Regions from separate parts of the Homo sapiens genome. Here region 1 is linked to region 2. Evidence: fine-mapped expression QTL. A gene starts in region 2. The other region holds a variant in brackets. All regions are shown on one strand. Distances are between the middles of the regions.

Region 1 (11,576 bases), 25 kb before region 2:
GCAACAAGAGTGAGACTCTGTCTCGGGGTAAAAAAAAAAAAAAAGTTTAAAAACTAGCTTGGTATGGTGTCTTGTACCTATAATCCCAGCTACTCAGGAGGCTGAGACAGGAGGATCCCTTGAGCCCAGGAGCTCAATGTTATAATGAGCTATGATTGCAACATTGTACTTCAACCTAGGCAATAGAACAAGACCCTGTCTCTTATTTAAAAAAAAAAAAAAAATATATATATATATATATATGCACACACACACATACACACACATATGAAAACAACTATATCTAAACCATCTCTTAGATTTCTGCAGACCAGACACTTCAATAATTAGGATTTGTCCTATAGGTTCTAATTACTTTTGGGGTCAGGGAAGAGGAAGATTTTTTAAAAATCTCTAACCACGGGGAGTTTAGGCAATTCTAGCATATATTAATATTCCAACACATTAGTCACATATTTACAAAAGAAAAATATTATCTGTGTAAAACTTTTTTCTTTAATTCCTGGTGAAAATTCAAGCCAACAAGCATTTATGAAGTGCTTACAAGGGCAAGGCGGCAAGATAAGGCCTGTCAAGAATAAGAAGCCGAACAGGACACAGCCCCTGATCTGAATGAATTCATACTAGAGGGAGAGACAGGAGCATGCACCATAACTATAATAAGAATAGAAAGACCTCGAAGCTGCAGGGAAGCTGCTGGGGAGGTGCAGGGGAGGTGTGCTGGGAACCAGGGAGGGGAGAGATTCATTCTGGTTGCTGATGTAAAATTAACAAAATGAGGAAGAGAACATTCTTTCCCCGTGTAAATCTTTCCAGAGAGGCCAAAAAAACTCTTCCTAAAATGTTTCTATTGCTGTTGCTGATCTATTTTTATACTGTACTCTGTATCTTCCTATCAAGGACCTGCCCTCTCATCAAAACCTAGGATAAAGATCACCTACTCTCTGACATCTCTCCTGAGTTCACCTGCCCTCATAATTCTCTGGGCATTTTTTTGGTGTTGTTTTTTGGTTTTGTTTCTGTTTTGAGACGAGTCTTGCTCTGTTGCCCAGGCTGGAATGCAGTGGCACAATCTCAGCTCACTGCAACCTCCACCTCCCAGGTGCAAGCGATTCTCCTGCCTCAGCCTCCCAAGTAGCTGCGATTACAGATTAGAGATGTCTTCTTTTAGGAGAGACAGGGTTTCGCCATGTTGGCCAGGCTGATCTCAAACTCCTGGCCTCAAGTGATCCTCCCACCTTGGCCTCCCAAAGTGCTGGGATTATAGGCGTGAGCCACCGCGTCTGGCCTTTCTGTGGGCATTTCTTATCTCCCCTTCCAGATTGGACGCTGCTTGAGAGCAAGAACCAAATCCAGCAGCCTCTATTCCCACCTAAGCCTTGCATGGGGCCTCATAAATCGCAACTGCTTATTGAATATCTGTTGGATAAAGTTCTAGCCCTCGCTTTCCAAGATTAATGTCATCACTGCAGGAAACTGTTAAAATAAAAACAGCCAAAATGTGTAAAAATTTTCAAGAAACATTTCCATTTTTAGCAGACTGTCAGAACTCACCCCCAATCCCGCCTTTTTCTTTGTTTCTAATTCTGAATTTGGGGCTAGCTGTGGTAGGCAGTCCCCCTTTTAATCTTTAAATATAGTTCTGAATATAATTACACTTTTGTGCAACACCGAAACATCATATCCTCGTGACAGGGCAAACTTGCACTATTAACATCTGAGTTAAATCTCCTTCGCGTCTGTCTTCGATTGAGGACAGTTAGGAAGTATAAGATGAAAGTGATCGACATCGTTTGTGAATTACGTGCATTTCCTTGTGCTGTATTTCAATGGATTTTGCTCCTGGTGGTTTTGCATGTGTGAATACCAGGTTGTCCATTAGCGGAGCTTTCGCCAAAAACCCCATCCCAGCATCCTAGCATGAAGGCATACACCACGTTTAGAAGAAGGTTCCTCTTGAGCTGAGAAACAAGTTGCATCGTGTCGTGCTCTTTGCCAAGGACACTCGTCTGTCTACCAAATGACCGGAGGAACTGGAGCCCACACAGAGAGAGTGGATAAATGGAAACAGCTCTTCTTGTGCCAGGCACTCACTCTTCTAAGCCATTGATTCCCCTTATCTCATTCAGTCCTCAAAATAGGTACTGGTATGCCTATTTTCCAGATGGGAAAACTGAGGCTCAACATGGTTAAGTAACTCACTGAGGTTGTACGGTTGGTTAGGAAATGGATGCACCCCCATCCGCCTCCCTTGTCCCCTCCCTGGCAGACTCCAGGGCCAGGAACCACATCACCACTCAGTTCTCATGATACTGTTGTTCTTCTGCCAGTTCCAGCCAGTATGTCTGACACCTCACTTACCTTGTAGGTGTGGGATCTGTCGGGTCCAGGGAGTGAAACATTGTCACAGAAGAAAGAACCCCAGGGCCAAGGAAAGAGGGTTTGTGTGGTGTGTGCCTGTTACCAGCAGTCACACCCTCATGGTGCCTCACTCACCCACACACTGGAAGAAGCTCTCCACTGTCCAGAGGACCGGGGCAGCCATCTCGGCAAATTCCAGGCTCAGGTCTACCCTATAGAAAGCTTGTGTTCCCGGGGTTCCTCCGACTTCTTGGCATCGCTGTGGGGCCACAAGAAATTAGTTGCACATTGGCTGGGCGCAGTGGCTCACGCCTGTAATCCCAGCACTTTGGGAGGCTGAGGCAGGCGGATCATGAGGTCAGGAGATCGAGACCATCTGGCTAACACAGTGAAACCCTGTCTCTACTAAAAACACAAAAAATTAGCTGGGCGTGGTGGTGGGCACCTGTAGTCCCAGCTACTCGGGAGGCTGAGGCAGGAGAATCGCTTGAACCCAGGAGGAGGAGGTTTCAGTGAGCCGAGATCGCGCCACTGCACTCCAGCCTGGGCAACAGAGCGAGACTCTGTCTCAAAAAAAAAAAAAAGAAAAGAAAAGAAAAGAAAAGATAAGAAATTAGTTGCACATGGCAGGGGCATCCCATGCCCTGTGGCTGTCCCCTGATGGGGCTACCTTGGTAAAAGCACGGGCCTGAGGAGCATACATGGTGAAGTCCATTTTCAGCCAGCGCCACAGCTCTGCCCTCCACATTTCTTTCTTTTTTACTTTTATTTTTTGAGACAGGGTCTCACTCCCATTGCCTAGGCAGGAGTGCAGTGGCACAATCACAGCTCATTACAGACTCAACTCCCTAAGATCAAGCAATTCTCCCACCTCATTTTGTAATTTTTTTGTAGCAATGAGGTCTCACTATGTTTCCCAGGCTGGTCTTGAACTCCCAGGCTCAAGTGACGCTCCGGCCTCGGCTTCCCAAAGTGCTGGGATTACAGGCACGAGCCACTGTGACTGGCCTACCTTCCATGTTTCTGACCACATATGGCATCGGTGACCAAAGGAGAAGGGCCTCAGGAAGAGAAGGGGCGAGACAGAGATGCCACCGGATACTCACCTGGACCTGGAGCACCCCGGCCGCCGGAATGCTGACCACCACAAAGTCCTTGTTCTCAGTCACCATAAAGATGTTGGACTGGTGGACTCGGAGGAATCTGAGGCTCAGGGTTTCCTCAATGTAGGAACCTCTTTTGACTAGACCCAGTCTCTGCTTGGGGATGTGAACTAAGACCTCCGACTCTGGCTGGAATGACACTGGAATGGGAAGGACACAGGACACAGAAAAAGGCACACTTTGCAGGCTCGTGGACAAATTAAGTGGTGGTGGGCCTTTGCCAGGGGCCACACCTGTGGCCGGCACAGCACACTTCCCCAGTCAGTGACAGCAAGTTACTTGGTGTCCTGGTATCACTGCCTGGGCTGAAACTTAGCTGCATGGATGAAGAAGAGAAGAAAAAAAGACCATTCCCAAACACCTGACAGACCTTGCCACTTGCAAAGGCCCATCAGGAAGCAGATGCCAGGAGGGAAGCTGCAGAAATGTCTCTACTGAGACCGTCTTTGGCTTCGGTGACCTAGCCCAGTGCCCCTTCCATTTCCAAAGCAACTCTTAAGTAATATAACTCCTAGGCCAGGCACAGTGGTCCATGCCTGTAATCCCAGCACTTTGGGAGGCCGAGGTGGGTGGATTACCTCAGGTCAGGATTTCAAGACCAGCCTGGCCTACATGGTGAAACCCCATCTCTACTAAAAACACAAAAAATTAGCCAGGCGTGGTGGCGGGTGCCTGTAATCCCAGCTACTTGGGAGGCTGAGGCAGGAGAATCGCTTGAACCCTGGAGGTGGAGGTTGCAATGAGCCGAGATCGCACCACTGCACTCCCACCTGGGCAACAAGAGTGAAACTCCATCTCAAAAAAAAAAAAAAAAAAGAAAGAAATACAGCTCCTATCAGTTGTTTACACTTTAGCAAGAATTTCACTGTGTCAGGCTCTCAGGGGGACATTTTAAGCCAGCTCTGCAGCTGCTAATGGAAGCATCTGCCTTTATATAAAGGGATTTGAAACACTGTGAACAGGGAAAGAGATGGTTGGAGGCTCATCATGGTCATTGCCAATGCCTGAAAATCCCCAGAGCCCTGAGCCCTGATCCCGAAACTCAGTCCATGATAAAATTCTATACAAATGGAAAGTCTAAACCACCTCTAATCTACCCACACAGGATGAAGCCTTTGATCCACCTAACTTTGCACACCGAGTTCTTTGAATTTAAATTCCCTGGAGGTAGGAAGTGGTCTTCCAGATTCCGGACCTCTTTATATGACATAAGACCCAGGGCAACGGTGTCACTCCAGGCTGAACAAAACAGTTATCACATACATGGTCTAGATAGGGGGTCCCCACCACCCTCAGATCACAGAGCCCTGGAGGGTCTGACCAGGCTGCAGGCTCTCTCCCGTCTCTGTTCTCAGAGCCTCTGGAGCCAGCTTAGGAGCTCCCAAGAATTTGCAGACCTCAAGTTTGCAGGTCTGTAGTAGATGATTTTACTTTTTTTTTTTTTTTTGAGATGGAGTCTCGCTCTGTCCCCCAGGCTGGAGTGCAGTGGCACCATCTCGGCTCACTGCAAGCTCCGCCTCCCAGGTTCACGCCATTCTCCTGCCTCAGCCTCCTGAGTAGCTAGGACTACAGGCCCCCGCCACCACGCCCGGCTAATTTTTTGTATTTTTTTAGTAGAGACAGGGTTTCACCGTGTTAGCCAGGATGGTCTTGATCTCCTGACCTCGTAATCCACCCGCCGCGGCCTCCCAAAGTGCTGGGATTACAGGCGTGAGCCACCGCGCCCGGCCGATGATTTTACTTTTTATTCACCCCACATCCCACCCCTACTCCACACACACATACCCCAACACCTTCCAGCAAAAGCAAACTTCTCTTTGTCCCGAGCATTTCTGAAACGCATAGCCAAGGTTGGGACTGAGGAGAGGAGAGGTGGGATGAGACAGAGGGGAATAAGGTGCCCAGAGGAGGGAGAAAACAGACCAGAATGTGATGAAGTTGGAAAGGTGGACATTAGGGGCACTCCTGGGTCTTACCCGGTGGGCAAGCAGCTTCTAAAGAATAGGCATGGTGACCGCTCACCAGCCATAGTGGCAGGAGCTCAGCAGAGGTGTTCAGCACCTGGGGAGGAAGGGGGGTCCCCCCTGAGGTCTCCAAAACTGCTCCTTCCAGATGCAGACTCCCTCCACAGGGGCCCCCTCTCCTACCTTCGAATTAGTCTCTGAACTAAAGCCCCAAGTGTTACAAAGCCCAGGTCAGGGATTATGGCGCCGATGCAACTAGGAAATATTATTTAGCTGAGATATTTTTAGCAGGAAGCGAGCTCAGAGCAAATGTCATGTGAGCCGTCTTCTCTTACACAGCAACTTTGGGCTATTTAAAGAGAC[G/A]GTAATTACGCTCCTGCCGCCATGATCAGGACGCACTGAATGCATGATTGCAGGAGCCCCTCATCTGCAGAGCGGAGCGCTTTACGCTAATGGGGCCCAATTTTCGAAGGCGCCTGCCTAAATCTGTCCAGTCTCGCAGGTGGACATTTGACTTGTCACTGGAGGGGTGGCAACCTGCTCTTCTAGGTGCTATGCCCCAGAGGCCCCTCACCTCCTGGCAGAGCCTGCTGCCCACCACTGACCTCCCACCTCTGAAGAAGGCCTTGTCTCGGGCTTTGGACGGTGACAGTGGTGGCATTCATGTCCACATACAGTCCCATCAGGCTGGCGTCTTCAAGAGAAGCCACCAGCTCCCCTCGAAGGGACAGCAGCCATGGAGTCTGGAGAAAGAGGACACGATCACAAACCATGTGGCCAGGGAGGCACGGTCACTAGGGGTTACGGAGAGGGGACACTTGAAGGGTCACCTAGGAAGGCAACAGGGTCACGGGGAGGATAATCTAGGCCAGGAGGCAGGACGGCAGGCCACTCTGGGAGGAGAGTCAACCAGACGCTAGCACGCTTATACTTTAGGGTAGGAGGTCCCTTGCAGGGGTGCCTGGCACACAGTAGGTGTACAACGCAACTGAAAGAACGAACACACAGTTACCCCTAACAGCAATGCCAACCAGTCGGCCCCTATGCCGCCCTGGCTGGGCACAACTGGAGTCCTGTCCTTGGCTCTGTTTGCCACCCTTTAGTGGGACATGGGAATCAGGGTCTTGAATAAAGGTGAGGGCCAGATGCGGGCAGAGGGACAGGGAAGGGTCGCCAGCTCCCATCTCAGGAGGACTGGCAGGGAGACATCAGGAAGACTTGGGGAGGTCAAGCTCACTGACCCCAAATATTCAAAGGGATGTGAAATGGAGAAGAGGGACTGGATCCTTCGGGGAGGCTGCGGGAAACACTCAAAGGACCAGCAGAAGGAAAATTCGGGAAACACCTGTGCAACATGGAACAAGCTCCTTACAAAGGAACAAGCTCCCTGTCACTGGAGACTTGGCAGAGAGAATCTTAGCACAGGAAGGACCTTACAGCCTTCCAACCCAGCCTCCCACCCAAAGCTGGGGTCCCCTCTTCAAGATTGTTCTCAGATGGCCTCAGGCCTCTGCCTGGAGGGCATCAGTGGGAGCTTCAAACTTCAGCCGGCAAGACCTGGTCCTTGAAGAGTCTGTACCATCCACGACACTCTCCGGAGGACAAGCAAACTCAAAAGCTGCCTCAGAGCATCCTGAGCACCCACCAGTCCTAGCAGAAACTTCCAGAGAGTTGCTCCTGCTACTTCAATGGGGCCCGCTTACCTGTCTATTGTCCCTCCACAGGGGCAGGGGCCGGGAGACCTGCAGAGACAAAGAGGAAGCAATGTCTCCTGCAAGCGGTGAGCAAAGGTGAGCAAACATCCCTGCCTGTGCCCATCAGCACCGGCAATTACCCCAGCAGGAGGCCGGTGAGAGAGCTGTGCCGCAGGGTTGTTTGCTCATTAAGACAAGAAAATCATTTATGTTCTGGGACTCGAGTGTCAACAGACGCAGGGAAATGTCACTGCCTCAGCTGCCATCCTAGGCCCGGCCAAGGGGGCAGCTGGGGTCCTGGGCGCAGCTGGTGAGGCCAAGAGCGGGTGTGCATGGGACCAACCCTGCTCACGGCCCACTTCCATTGGGGCTGTTTCCTAGGCCTCTTGTCTGTTTTTCTCCCTAAGTCCCAATTTCTTTCTCGCCCTTTTTCTTTCCACTTTGGATCCAACTAGCAGAAGTAGAGAGTGAGGGCTTCTACGGTCCCAGAGAGTACACATGTGCCCCCCAATGGCACCATTCTTAGGGGCACCAACCATCCCGGTTCCCCAGCAGTGGGGAGGTTCCCCTGATGTGGGATTTTCAGTGCTAAAACTGAGACAGGCCCAGGCAAACCGAGACAGTGGTTTCTCGTACCGCGCCTGAGTCTCACAGCCATCCCGTAGGGTGGCACCATTCTCCCGTTTCACAGACCAGGGCCCAAGGTGATGGCGTGGGCAAGGCACCTTCCCCAAAACCCCTCTGCAGCCAGTGCCACCCCACCCAGGTGCTCTCTCAAGTCTCTCTACTTTCTCCAAATGCCCCTTTGCCTTTGCGTCAGACTTGGCCAGGGAGGTTGTGGCACCGGACAGAGTCACAGACCAGCAGAGGGTCCCTCGGAGACCATCAGACCCCCTCTCCTACCCAATACAGAATGAGGAGACTGGAGCCAGAGTGGACTGACTCATCTTGACAGCTCCCCAACTCAAGGCTACCCACCTCTTCTCCCCAGGGGCAAAGAAGGGCTTCCAGAAGCAGAAAGGAGTGGGTGGGGCCAGGAAAAGGCCCGCCACCACCATGCAGCCTCCCCAGTTGCCCAGCTCGGCTGTTCCTTGGCCCCAGAGAGCCCATGTTGGCAGCAGGCTCGGGCTGCCCACAGGGAGCCCCTCGGGTCAGCCCTGTGATGGCCTTGCTTTTAGGGGGTGCTGCCTTCCCTTGGGGAGCAAAGTGGAAGAAATGGAGGAGATGTCCACAAGGTCTGGCAGAATGAGGAGGATGCGGCAATTCCTCAACAACACCACCAAAGCTGCACCATGGTGCCCCAGCCCATCTCCCCTGCTGAACCAGGAAGAAGACAGAGAGGCCCCCAGAGGCCAGGCTGTAAGAAGGAGGGAAGCAATTCTGCTAAAAGAAGGAAGGGAAGGCCAGGTGCAGTGGCTCATGCCTGGAATCTCAGCACTTTGGGAGGCTGAGGCGGGTGGATCACCTGAGCTCAGGAGTTCCAGACCAGCCTGGGCAACATGGTGAAACCCCATCTTTACCGAAAATACAAAAAATAAAAAATAAAAAAATTAGCCAGGAGTGGTGGCAGGCGCCTGTAGTCCCAGCTACTCAGGAGGCTGAGGCACGAGGTTCGCTTCAACCTGGGAGGCGGAAGTTGCAGTGAACTGAGATTGTCCCACTCACTCCAGCCTGGGCGACTCTGGCCAGAGTGAGACTCTGTCTCCAAGAAAAAAAAAGAAAGGAAGGGAAGACGTGACAAGTACGCAGCCAAAACGCACCGTGCCCTTTAAGTCGCCAGGAGGAGGCTATATTTAGGGCCCGTGGACATTCCGCAGGAGCTCGGGCAGCCTTCACTGGGAGCAATCGCTAATCACTGCATTGAGTTTACGGGTGCCCCTGGGCACACTTAACCCAGGGCAATGAATAGTTATTGCGCGGCCTCCCGCTCGGGGCCTGTGGGCACACTTAAGCGAGCTCGCAGATCGCTGCGAGCAGGGCACGGCTCGGGTACACCCTTGGGCACCCTGCGCCATCAGCGGGGAGAGGCAGAGTATTAAATATCTATGTGCCCTGTGCCCACAGCTGCATTTAGCCAAGGGCAAGGCCGGTGAAACGGCTTTAATTAAAACTTAATGCAAGTTCAAGGTGCAGCCACGGAAGTGGCGGCTGCAGAAGTCACCAGGAATGAATCAGTCAATTCGATGAGGTTCTCAGATGGGGGAAGGGGCTGGAGGGGAGGCGGGGGCAGCAGAGACCTGCCTCTGCTCCTTGTGTGCTGCCTACCTCTGTGCGACTCTGTTTACGGATGCAGAGCCCCCCCCACCCACCTGCTCCCACACCTCGGTCAGTGAAGGATGCCAGGGACTGGGGCATTGGGGCATCTGGGCTTCAAGGGCAGGACGATGGAGACCAAGCGGCGCCCGAGTGAGGAGTCGTTTCTGCTTTTCTCAGCAATTCGGCCCAGGCCCACTGTCGTGTGAGGACAGCAACACCGTCCCCCTAGCGGCGGCTTCCAGAATCACAGGCTCAGTGCAAAGGGAGCAGTAACCAGCCCCGGGATGTCAAACAGGTGCCCTGGCAGCCCTGCTTGGGGATCCCGGGGCGGGGCCGGCCCCGCAATTCTTAGGTGCACCAACACTGGCTTTGGCGTGGCCACTCTGAGCCCTTAATAAAGGTAGGTGGGCAGAGGAAGCCCCTCCCGCTCAGCCCCTGCTCCTTCAGGTTAAGAAGCAAAGGAACTTTAGAGAGTCCAACATGGCAGTGAGCCGGGCTCAGAGCGGAGATGAGCCCAGGTCTTCTGAGCTGGGCTGGTGCAGGGGCCCTTCCCACCACAGCACACTCATTTTTGAAGCTCAGATCAGATGAGAAGAAAGCGATAAGCTCTTCCTGGGGCAAGTCATGCCTTGGTCGTATCTGTTCCCTCAGCAGCAGCACAGGGCTGGGCATACAATAGATGCTCAATAAATGCTTGTTGGGGCCAGGCGCGGCAGCTCACGCCTGTAATCCTAGCATTTTGGGAGGCCAAGGCAGGTGGATCGGTTGAGGTCAGGAGTTCGAGACTAGCCTGGCCAACATGGTGAAACCCCATCTCTACTAAAAACGCAAAAAATATTTTAAAAATCAACTGGCTTTAATTAAACTGGTGGTGGCGCATGCCTGTGATCCCATGAGAATCGCTTGAACCCAGGAGGCAGAGGTTACAGTGAGCCGAGATCACACCGCTGTACGCCAGCCTAGGCAACAGAGCGAGACTCTGTCTCAAAATAAATAAATGAACAAATGCTTGTTGGATAAATGGTGTTTGTCATCAGCAGCCTTTTCACTCCAACCTCCTCCTCTCAGTTCTGCCTTCCTCTCCTTTCTCTTCCTCCTTCCTTCCTCCTCCTCCTCACAGACAGAAGATGCCCACCCAAATCCCTCAGGCCAAATCCAGCACTTTGTTTGAGCCGCACAGTGCCTACAAAATTAAAGTGACTTGACCGGGCGTGGTGGCTCACACCTGTAATCCCAGCACTTTGGGAGGCCGAGGCAGGCGGATCACTTGAGGTCAGGAGTTCTAGACCAGCCTGGCCAACATGAGGAAACCCCGTCTCTACCAAAAATATAAAAAATTAGCCGAGTATGGTAATGCATGCCTGTAATCCCAGCTACTCGTGAGGCTGAGGCAGGAGAATCACTTGAACCCAGGAGGCGAAAGTTGCAGTGAGCTGAGATCACGCCACTGCACTCCAGCCTGGGTGACAGAACGAGACTGCATCTCAAAAAAATAAATAAATAAAGTGAACTTTTTTTAACTGGAGGATTTCACATACAATTATAGATTTCCAGTTTATCTTGAAATGTTGGAAAATCTGGCAAAATGGGGCTGGAGTGCAGTCCAGCCTCAGCTCCCTCTGTAGGGGGCCAGGACTGTAGGTTGTGCCTGTTCCAGCATCCCCAGCCCCCACCATGTGGTCTGGCTCAAAGCCCAGCTCTGTTGCTACCAGCTGGCAAGTCTCCTAATCTCTCTCTGCTTAGTTCTCTCACCTGCAGAATGGGGATCAATATAGAACCAACTACATAGAATCGCTATGAAGGTGAGATGAGTTAATATTTGCAAAGTGAGTAGAACGGCACCCAGCACAGAATGAGCCATATATAAGTGTTTGCTGGGCCAGGCGTAGTGGCCCACGCCTATAATCCCAGGGCTTTGAGAGGCCAAGGTGAGAGGATCGCCTGAAGCCAGGAGTTTGAGACCAGCCTGGGCAACACAGTGAGACGCCGTCTCTACAAAAAATTTGAACATTAGCTGGGCATGGTGTCATACGCCTATAGTCCCAGCTACTTGGGAGGCTGAAGTGGGAGGATCCCTTAAGCTCAGGAGGTCAAGGCTGCAGTGAGCCTGCGTGACGGAGCAAGATCCTGTCTCTTTA
Region 2 (10,577 bases):
TGAGGCAGCGGGGGATGGCTTGAGCCCAGGAGTTCAAGATCAGCCTGGGCAACATGGTGAAACCCTGTCTCTATTAAAACTATAAAACATTAGCTGGGCATGGTGGCGCATGCCTGTAGTCTCAGCTACTCAGGAGGCTGAGGTGGGAGGATCACCTGGGCCCGGGAAGTCAAGGCTATAGTGAGCAGTGATTGCACCACTGTACTCCAGCCTGGAGGACTACAGTGAGACCCTAGTGCTGGGATTACAGGTGTGAGCCACCATGCCTGGCCTCAAAAAGATTTTAAATGATGAATCTCGTGCCTATAATCCCAGCACTTTGGGAGGCCGAGGCGGGCAGATCACCTGAGATCAGGAGTTCAAGACCAGCCTGGCCAACATGGTGAAACCCCGTCTCTACTAAAATACAAAAATTCCCCGGGCGTGGTGGCGTGCGCCTGTAATCCCAGCTACTCGGGAGGCTGAGACAAGAGAATTGCTTGAGCCCAGTAGGCGGAGATTGCAGTGAGATGAGATCACGCCACTGCACTCCAGCCTGCATGACAGAGTAAGACTCCATCTCCAATAAATAAATAAATAAATAAAATGATGAATCTGTATTAAAGATTTTATTAACTCATTATTAGTGAGGGAACCAGGCAGAGGTTACAACCAGTTCAAAGGAGAAGAAAGAACAGATACATTTCTAGATCAGGATGCAAATAGACACCAAACTGGCTTCTTCCACAGTGGGGAAGGGAAGCCAATGGAACCTCCCCCATGAAATTTATTTGCGTGTCCATAGGCAGGAATTGGTTGCATTGCCATAGGTTCTCTATGACTTAGAGCACCATAAGATAGCACAAAGGTGATGAAAGGCTGGAGTTAGACAGCAGGAACCCTCTTCTCCAAATAATGCTTAGTTTTCCATTGAAGACACCAGTAACCTTTAAAAATAATATTTTTGTTTATTCCAAATTTCTGTTTTTGCCAGGCGCTGTGGTTCACGCCTGTAATCCCAGCACTTTGGAGGCTGAGGCTGACAGATCACCTGAGGTCAGGAGTTTAAGACCAAACTGGTCAACATGGCAAAACCTCGTCTGTACTAAAAATACAAAAATTAGCCAGGCGTGATGGCACACGCATGTAATCCCAGCTACTCAGGAGGCTGAGGCAGGAGAATCGCTTGAACCCGAGAGGCGGAAGTCGCAGTGAGCTGAGAGCGTGACATTGTACCACTCCAGCCTGGGTGACAAGAACAAAACTCCACAGTAAAAAAAAAAAAAAAAAGTTAGCCACCACGCCCGGCTAATTTATTAGTATTTTTTTTGTAGAGATGGGGTTTCACCATGTTGCCCAGGCTGGTCTCAAACTCCTAAGCTCAAGCGACCCACTCACCTCAGTCTCCCAAAGTGCTGGGATTACAGGCGTGAGCCACTGCACCGAGCCCCCAAATTTCTTTATGTCAGGTAAAACATCACTGAGAGGTGACAGTTGAACCAAGATGGTATGTATGTCACGGAGTCCCGCTGGGCATGGTGGCTTATGCCTATAATCCCAACACTTTGGGAGACTGAGGCAGGAGGATCACTTGAGCCCAGGAGTTTGAGACCAGCCTGGGCAAAATAGCAAGACTCGATGTCTACAAAAAGATTTTAAAATTAACCTGGTGTGGTGGCATGCGCTTGTGGTCCCAGCTACTCAGGAGGCTGAGGTGGGAGGATTGCTTGAGCCTGGGAGGTCTAGGTTGCAATGAGCAATGATTGTCCCACTGCACTCCAGCCTGGGTAACAAAGCGAGACCCTGTCTCAAAAAAAAAGAAAGAGTCCCATGCAAAGACCTGGGGAAGGGCATTCCTCAGCAGAGGAAATAGTCAGTGCACAGCAAACAGTCGGAAATGAGTTTGGTGTGTTTGTGTTTAAGGACTCAAAAGAAGGTCAGTGGAACTAGAGCCAGTGACAGAGGGGCCGCTGGTGGGCAAAAAGGAGAGGGGCAGGCAGGAGCCATGGCCAGGGGTGCAGGCTGGGGTTTTACCATAAAAAATTGTGGGAAGCCCTGGAGAACTCTAAGCAGGGAAGGAAGAGGATCTCACTTTTTTTTTCTTTTTTGAGACTGAGTATCTCACTCTGTCACCCAGGCTGGAGTGCAGTGGCACAGTCTCGGCTCACTGCAATCTCTGCTTCTCAGATTTAAGTGATTCTCGTGCCTCAGCCTCCTGAGTAGCTAGGATTACAGGCGTGTGCCACCACGCCTGGCTAATTTTTGTATTTTTAGTAGAGTCGGGGGTTTCACCATGTTGGCCATGGCTGGTCTTGAGCTCCTGGCTTCAAGTTATTCGCCCACCTCAGCCTCTCAAAATGCTGGGATTACAGGTGTGGGCCACCGCACCCAGGGCAAGGATCTCACATTTTAAAAGACTCTTCGGGCAGCTGAGACTCCAACTATTTAAAATGACTGCAGGCAAGAACCTAAACTTCCCACAAAGAAGCTTTCCTTAGAGGAGTTCAGGAAATAATCCTGAAGCCAGAAGCTGGAAAGAAAGAATGACAGGGAGAGATTGGCAGAATGTGGAGCATTGAGAAAGCTCCTGCCTCCTGGCGGGAGTGAGGTTGGTTCAACCACTCTTGGGAACTGGTAGAATCTACTAAGACTGAACATTCCTCCACCCTTCGACCCAGCGCTTCCTCTCCAACTGCAAGGCAAGCACAAGGGCATCAGAGGACACGTGCAAGACTGTTGACAGCAGTGCTATTATTTCCTGTAACCTGGAAACCACCCCAGCGCCCAGCAGTGGTAGAATGGACCCATTGTGGTCTACTCCTACAATGGAATACTGAACTGCAATGAAAAGAAAGAAACTACTATTGGACGGGTGCAGTGGCTCACGCCTGTAATCCCAGCACTTTGGGAAGCGGAGGCGGGCGGATCACTTGAGGTCAGGGGTTTGAGAGCAGCCTAGCCAACATGGTGAAACCCTATCTCTACTAAAAATACGAAATTAGCCAGGTGCGGTGGCGCATGCCTGTAATCCCAGCTACTCAGGAGGCTGAGGCAGGAAAATCGCTTGAACCTGGGAGGTGGAGGTTGTGGTGAGCCGAGATCTCACCATTGCGCTCCAGCCTGGGCAACAAGAGCAAAACTCCGTCTCAAAAAAAAGAAAGAAAGAAAGTTAACAGTTTAAAAAGCAATGTGAAAAGGCAGGAATGGGTGCTGCATTTCCTTCTAGGGCTGCCCTCGTTGAGCCATTCGATTCCTGGGTGGGCAGAGGGCCAGGGCCTCAGGCCCAGCCCAGGGAGGCCAAATGCCAGGGCCCACAGTCTCCCCAGAGTGGGTTGGCAAAGAATGACAGGACTGGTTCCCCAGCCTGGAATCTAAGCTGAGCCTGCAGCCTTTGAGCTGGGAGGAGCTTGCGGCTGCCTGGCTGCCCCGCTGCCCCGCTTCATTCGCTGAATTCAGAAGCGCCTGTGGCGAGCCTCTCCCATGGACGGCCGGGTACCCGCCCTGGGCTCTGCTGCCTGGACACTGAGCCCAATGCGGAATTCCTCTCCCAGCAGCGGGGAGGCGCTATTATTAGTTGATTAATTTGCAAAACAAAAACCTGGCTGGGGCAATTGGTCTTGAAGGAAGGTTCTCCCAGAGCGAGTAAATCTGAGACAGGACCAGAAGAATAATCTTGGGGAAAAGGAAAGTGGCTGACTCTGGTGCTGAGTCCCGGCCTTGCCAGGGACCCCGACTCTGCTGTTACACAGGGAATGCTGTCTGGAATCGGCCCGGTGGCAGGTGGGGGGTAGACAGCTCTCCCCTCCGTCTGATGCCTGCTCCTGTTCTCCTCCTTGAGCATCAATCGGGAGAAAGATGTGGGTTTGGGTTTTTCCCCCTCACTTCTCAGACCCAGAACTGCCCCATCCCAGTCTGGGGGGAGACATGATGCTCCATCCCCCAAAGCTGAGCCCCCTCATGGGGCATCCAGGAGAAGGCAATGGGTCCCCAGGACAGGGCCCGGACCTCCCCCTTGCTCGCCCAGCCCCACAAAGCCCCACTCAGCTTCTCCACTGCCTTCATTGTCTACAGACTTCAACCTCACAAAACGCCCAACAAAAGCCCTGCAGTCCACGGCCCAAAGGCCACAAGCCAGCTATTGTGACATTCCAGCTGGCCTGGGAGGCTTCACTTCCCACTCTCAGGAGCTTTTTAAAGTATCTCTTAAAAATGCATCTCAGATGGGGAAAAGAGGTAGCAATTCTGTTGCCAAGGAAAATGAGATTTTGGCCAAGTGCAGTGAGTCATGCCCGTAATCCCAATACTTTGGGAGGCCGAGACAGGAGGATGGCTTGAACCCAGGAGTTTAAGACCAGCCTGGGCAACACAGTAAGACCCTGTCTCTACAAAAAAATTAAAAAATTACCAAAGTGTGGTGGCACATGCCTATGGTCCCAGCTACTCAGGAGGCTAAAGTGGGATGATCACTTGAGCCCAGGAGTTAAGAGATGACAGTGAACTATGATCTTGCCACTGCACTCCAGCCTGGGCAACAGAGCAAGACTCTATCTCAGGAAGAAGGAGAGACAGAGAGGGAGAGAGAGAGAGAAAGAGAAAAGAAAGGAAAGGGAAGGAAGGAAGGAGAAAGGAAGGAAGGCAGGGAGGGAAGGAAGGAAGGGAGGGAAGGAAGGAAAATGAAATTTTCTCCTAATCCTTACAATCGAATAGCTAGCGACCACAACTCCTATCATTTGAAAACTCCTTGAAATCAAGCATCTCTTGGTCAACTTGACCCCTAATTTGTTTTGTTTTAAGGACCCTCTAGGACAAGGAAGACGTGTTCTGTTTTCTCCCAATCTTCTGGAAATCCTTCCCAAGATGGGAGGACTGGAATTCCAGAACAAGGGATGACAGGAGCATGAGAAAGGTGGGAGAGACTGTGGCCGGACCTCACCTGAGAAAGTCAGCCCTTCCCAAGGCATCCATGCATCTGGGCCCCTCACCCATTTGGCCCCCTTCCCTCTTAGATGCAAGGCTTCTGATTCTGATGGAAGATATTTGGCTTCTTCAAGGAGTGTGGGCACACTAAGCATGCCACTGGCTTCTCCCAATTCCTGAATAAGGGACACTTACCAGGCAAGTGCTGGGGACCCCCACATCCTCAGGCCCAGCAGCTCTCTCCTGCCCTGGGAGAATTTAATCTGAAGCAGTTCCAAGCAACTAAACGAAAGGTTGGCTCCTCCCCTTCCCCTCCAGTGCAGGTCTCGGGTCACTCAGGTGCCAGAAAACACAGGTGGGTGTCAACACTCTCAGCTTCTCCCCATCCCTCTGCATGGGTGAGATGAATTGCTTCAGCCGTGGGAGCTCAAAATAAGATTGCGGATCAGAAGGCTGAAGATGAATTGATCCACTGAGGCTGGAGTGCAGGCCCTCATTCTCCGCTCCCGGGAGAAGCCTGTCTCTGTGCCCAAGGAAGGAAAGAAGCTAAGAAACTGAGCTTCACCGGAGGAACAGTCACGCTGTCTTGATGGGGCTTCCCAGAACCCTGCTCCAGGCCCCTCCTGGCAGAGTTCAAAAGGAGCTGAGGGGCCAGGCATGGTGGCTCATGCCTGTAACCCCAGCATTTTGGGATGCAGAGATGGGCAGATTGTTTGAGGTCAGGAGTTCGAAACAAGCCAGGGGAACATGGCAAGACCCTGTCTCTACAAAAAATTTAAAAACTAGCTGGGCATGGTGGCACACACCTGTGGTCCTAGCTACTCAGGAGGCTGAGGTGAGAGGATTGCTTGAGCCCAGGAGGTTGAGGCTGCAGTGAGCCCTGATTGTGCTACTGCACTCCAGCCTGGGCAACAGAACAAGACCCTGTCTAAAAAAAAAAAAAAAAGGGGCCGGGCACAGTCACTCATGCCCATAATCCCAGTGATTTGGGAGGGCGAGGCAGGCTGATCACCTGATGTCAGGACTTCGAGACCAGCCTGGCCAACATGGTGAAACCTTATCTCTACTAAAAATACAAAACTAGCCAGGTGTGGGGGTGCACGCCTGTAATCCCAGCTACTTGGGAAGTTAAGGCAGGAGAATTGCTTGAACCCGGGAGATGGAGGTTGCAGTGAGCCAAGATCGTACCATTGTACTGCAGCCTGGGTGACAAGAGCAAAACTCCGTCTAAAAAAAAAAAAAAAAAAAAAAAAAAAAAAAAAAAAAAAAAAAAAGACCAGGCGCAGTGACTCACGCCTGTAATCCTAGCACTTTGGGAGGCTGAGGTGGGTGGATCATCAGGTCAGGAGTTTGAGACCAGCCTGGCCAACATGGTGAAACCCTGTCTCTACCAAAAATACAAAAAATAGCCGGGCTTGGTGGTGGGCACCTGTAATCCCAGCTACTCTGGAGGCTGAGGCAGGAGAATCGCTTGAACCTGGAAGGCAGAGATTGCAGACAGCTGAGATCGTGCCATTGCACTCCAGCCTGGGCGATACAATAAGACTCCGTCTCAAAAAAAAAAAAAAAAAGGAAGAGGAGATTAGGGCACGGACACATACGGAGGAATGACGGTGTGAGGACACAGGGAGAAGATGGCCAGCTGTGAGCCAGAGAGGCAGCTCCGGAGAAACCAGCCCTGCCTGCACCTTGATCTCAGACTCCTAGCCTCTAGAACTGTGAAGAAATCAATTGGTGTGTAAATCCCAAGTCTGTGGTACTCTGTCGTGGCAGCCCTTGCAAACAAATATCCCTGCAAAATGAGGATTTAGGACTAGATGGTTCCTAATACCCTTTGCAAGTGAAAAAAAAAAAAAGTCTTGATTTTAACTATTCCATTTTATCTGTGTTTATCCCTTCCTCCCCCCGCCCCAAATACTTGCCATTATTGAAAGTCGAGGAAGCCAGGCACAGTGGCTCACTCCAGCCTGGGCAACAGAGCAAGATTGTATCTCAGGAAGAGAGACAGAGAGGGAGAGAGAGAAAGAGAGCCTGTAATCCCAACATTTTAGGAGGCTGAGGTTGGCAGATCACCTGAGGTCAGGAGTTCGAGACCAGCCTGGCCAATATGGCGAAACCCCATCTCTACTAAAATTACAAAAATTAGCCGGGCATGATGGCACACGCCTGTAATCCCAGCTACTCAGGAGGCTGAGGCAGGAGAATCGCTTGAACCCAGGAGGCGGAGGTTGCAAGTGATCCAAGATGGCGCCACTGCATTCTAGCCTGGGTGATGAGCGAAACTCCATCTCAAAAAAAAAAAAAAAAACCAGAAACTAATTATCTCCCAGGTTTAGAGGCCAGAAGTCCAAAATCCAGGTGTCAGCAGGGCCACGATCTCTCTAAAGATCCCAGGGGAGGGTCGTTCCCTGCCTCTTCCTAGCTTCTAGTGGCTGGTGGCAGTCCTGGGTGTCCTGGGCTTGTAGCTGCATCACTCCCATCTCTGCCTCCGTCACCAGCATATGGTATTCTTCCTGGGTGTCTCTGTCCACATTTTTCTTTTTCTTTTTTTTTTTTTTGAGAGAGAGTCTCACTCTGTCACCGGGCTGGAGTACAGGGGCACTAAGTGCTGGGATTACAGGCCTGAGCCACCACGCCCGGCCCCAATTTTCCTCTTCTTATAAAGACTCTAATTACTGGATTAAGGGCCAGCCTAATCCAGTATGACCTCACTTAACTTGATTGCATCAGCAAAGACCCTATTTCTAAATAAGGTCACATTCCCACATATCTGGGATTTGGCTTTTTTTTTTTTCTTTGAGACAGGGTCCTACTCTGTCACCCAGGCATGAGTGCAATGGTGCAATCACGGTTCACTGCAGCCTCGACCTCCTGGGTTCAAGCAATCCTCCTGTTTCAGCCTCCTGAGTAACTGAGAATACAGGCACACACCACCATGCTTGGATGATTTTTAAATTTTTTCTAGAGACAAAAGAGACCAGAGGGAACAGCCACGGTGGCTCACGCCTGTAATCCCAGCACATTGGGAGGCTGAGGTGGGCAGATCACTTGAGGTCAGGAGTTTGAGGCCAGCCTGGCCAACATGGTGAAACCCCATCTCTACTAAAAATACAAAAATTAGCCAGGCATCATGGCGCATATCACTCATTCTAGCTACTCGGGAGGTTGAGGCACGAGAATCACTTGAACCCAGGAGGCAGAGGTTGCAGTGAGCTGAGATCACACCACTGCACTCCAGCCCGGGCGACAGAGCAAGACCCTATCTCAAAAAACAAACAAACAAGAGACAGAGACCAGAGGTCTCTGAGATGGGGTCCGTACGAAAGATACCACTACGTTGTCCAGGCTGGTCTCAAACTTCTAGGCTCAAGTGATTCTCCTGCCTCAGGCTTCCAGAGTGCTGAGATTACAGGTGTGAGCCACTGCACCCAGCCTGTTTCTCTTTTTCTTTTCTTTTTTTGAGACGGAGTTTCACTCTGTCACCCAGGCTGGAGTGCAGTGGCACGATCTCTGCTCACTGCAACCTCCACCTCCCAGGTTCAAGCAATTCTCTGCCTCATCCTCCCGAGTAGCTGGGATTACAGGCACCTGCCACCACGCCTGGCTAATTTTTTGTATTTTTAGTAGAGGCGGGGTTTCACCATCTTGGCCAGGCTGAACTTAAATTCCTGACCTCGAGATCCACCCGCCTCAGCCTCCCAAAGTGCTGGGATTACAAGCGTGAGCCACCACACCCAGCCCTGTTTCTCTTTTTAACTCATCTTTTTGTTGACCAACTTTTCCTTTAATCCCAAATTGCTCGGGATTTATCATGAGCCGCCTAAGAAGACATGGAGTTGGAAGTGGAGACCCAGAGTGGTGCATGGAAGCTGGTTGTCACCAGGATCTGTTCACGCTCAGGTGAAAGGCCCTCATCACACCAAACAGAAGCAGGCAGGATCAGAACACACAGCTGGTGAAACCCTCACGGGCCCTGGAGGAGGCCCAGATGCCCTGGCCCACTTCATAAGGCCTCAAACAGAAACGCCAAAGCCAGGGCAAACATCACTGGTACACAGCTCACTCAGAGAACCTGCAAGGACCACCCTGGAGCTGTTGTTTAAATCTTAAAAAGAGAAGAAGAAACAGGAATTGAAAAACAGGTTTTCTTTCCTAATCTGATACCCTAAACCCCATTCCTCCTACACACACACGCACACACCTATAAACATAGCCACAGACATCTCTACACACACACCCTGAAACCCACCTACACACACAACCCTATACAAAACTCTTAGCATATGCCCCACACACTCCTAGAAATGCGCGCGCACACACACACACGCAGTAGGGGCTCCCGTCTTAGATATTTTTAGAGAAAGCAATTTCATTGGGGTCTTTCCAGTGGAGCTCAAATTTCATTTCTCCATTTGGGAAAATCACATTTTCAAAATAGCTTTCTTTTTTTTTTTTTTTTGAGACAGTCTCGCTCTGTCACCCAGGCTGGAGTGCAGTGATGCAATCTCAGCTCACTGCAACCTCTGCCTCCCGGGTTTAAGTGATTCTCCTGCCTCAGCCTCCTGAGTAGCTGGGACCACAGGCGTGCGTCATCAAGCCTGGCTCATTTTTTTGTGTGTGTTTTTAGTAGAGTCGGTGTTTCACCGTGTTAGCCAGGATGGTCTTGATCTCCTGACCTCGTGATCCACCCGTCTCAGCCTCCCAAAGTGCTGGGATTACAGGCGTGAGCCACCGCGCCCGGTCAAGAGTAGCTTTTATGCAATAGTTGGAAGCCGTGAGAATTGGCCAAGTCAGCCCCAGCACGGTTTTCCCCATGGTTTTCTTATTAACACCTTCCTTCTCTTGCAAATACCCACTGAGCTGGTTTTTCAAAAGCAGAAACCACTGACCCACTCACTGGTCTCCTTTGATACTTAGAGGTTAACGATTACTAAAAATATACATATTGATTCCAACTGCCAAGCTTCCCAGGCCTTTTCAGGATGTCCATCTTGCTGAGATCTGGCACCATTACTTACCACTTTTATGAGGAGGAAACCAACATTTAACCAAACTATTACCAGGCTTGCTGAAGTTCCTCCTGATCAGTCAGTTACAAACACACAAAATAACTAGATACTTGGTTGCCTGAGAGGCAGAAGGTGAATGGGCAATGCAGCCTGTTGGTGAAACACGGTCTTTTTTGCTCTATTAGAATCATGAGACCGGGCGCGGTGGCTCACGCCTGTAATCCCAGCACTTTGGGAGGCCACAGCAGGTGGATCACCTGAGGTCGGGAGTTTGAGACCAGCCTGGCCAACATGGAGAAACCCCACCTCTACTAAAAACACAAAAATTAGCCAGACATGGTGGCGGGCGCCTGTAATTCCAGCTACTTGGGAGGCTGAGGTGCAAGAATCGCTTGAACCAGGGAGGCGGAGGTTGCATTGAGCCGAGATTGTGCCACTGCACTCCAGCCTGGGCGACAGAGCAAGAGACCCTGTCTGAAAAAAAAGAAAGAAAGAAAGAGAGAAAGAAAGAGAGAAAGAGAGAAAGAGAAAGAGAAAGAAAGAAAGAAAGAAAGGAAAGAAAGAAAGAGAAAGAAAGAAAAGAAAGAAAGAAAGAAAGGAAGGAAGGAAGGAAGGAAGGAAGGAAGGAAGGAAGGAAGAAAGAAAGAAAGAAAGAAAGAAAGAAAGAAAGAA

What was found. PIP is the estimated chance that this variant, and not a neighbour inherited with it, causes the effect.
Region 1: its variant is fine-mapped to the expression of CIROZ in whole blood (TOPMed, PIP above 0.99).

The regions. Positions count from the first base shown.
Region 1 is chr1:10,951,523-10,963,098 of GRCh38, forward strand. It overlaps CIROZ (ciliated left-right organizer protein containing ZP-N domains), which reads right to left. Exons shown (of 13, transcript NM_001170754.2): 6 at 7,192-7,230; 7 at 6,094-6,231; 8 at 5,501-5,585; 9 at 3,468-3,664; 10 at 2,497-2,620. Among named protein-coding and RNA genes, the nearest start is that of CIROZ, 25 kb to the right of the region's middle. RefSeq lists enhancers at 6,939-7,708, 8,478-9,247 and a silencer at 9,550-9,844. The variant G/A (reference allele first, on the strand shown) is at 5,852.
Region 2 is chr1:10,976,921-10,987,497 of GRCh38, forward strand. It overlaps CIROZ (ciliated left-right organizer protein containing ZP-N domains), which reads right to left and starts at 5,156. Exons shown (of 13, transcript NM_001170754.2): 1 at 5,092-5,156. The coding sequence starts at 5,117.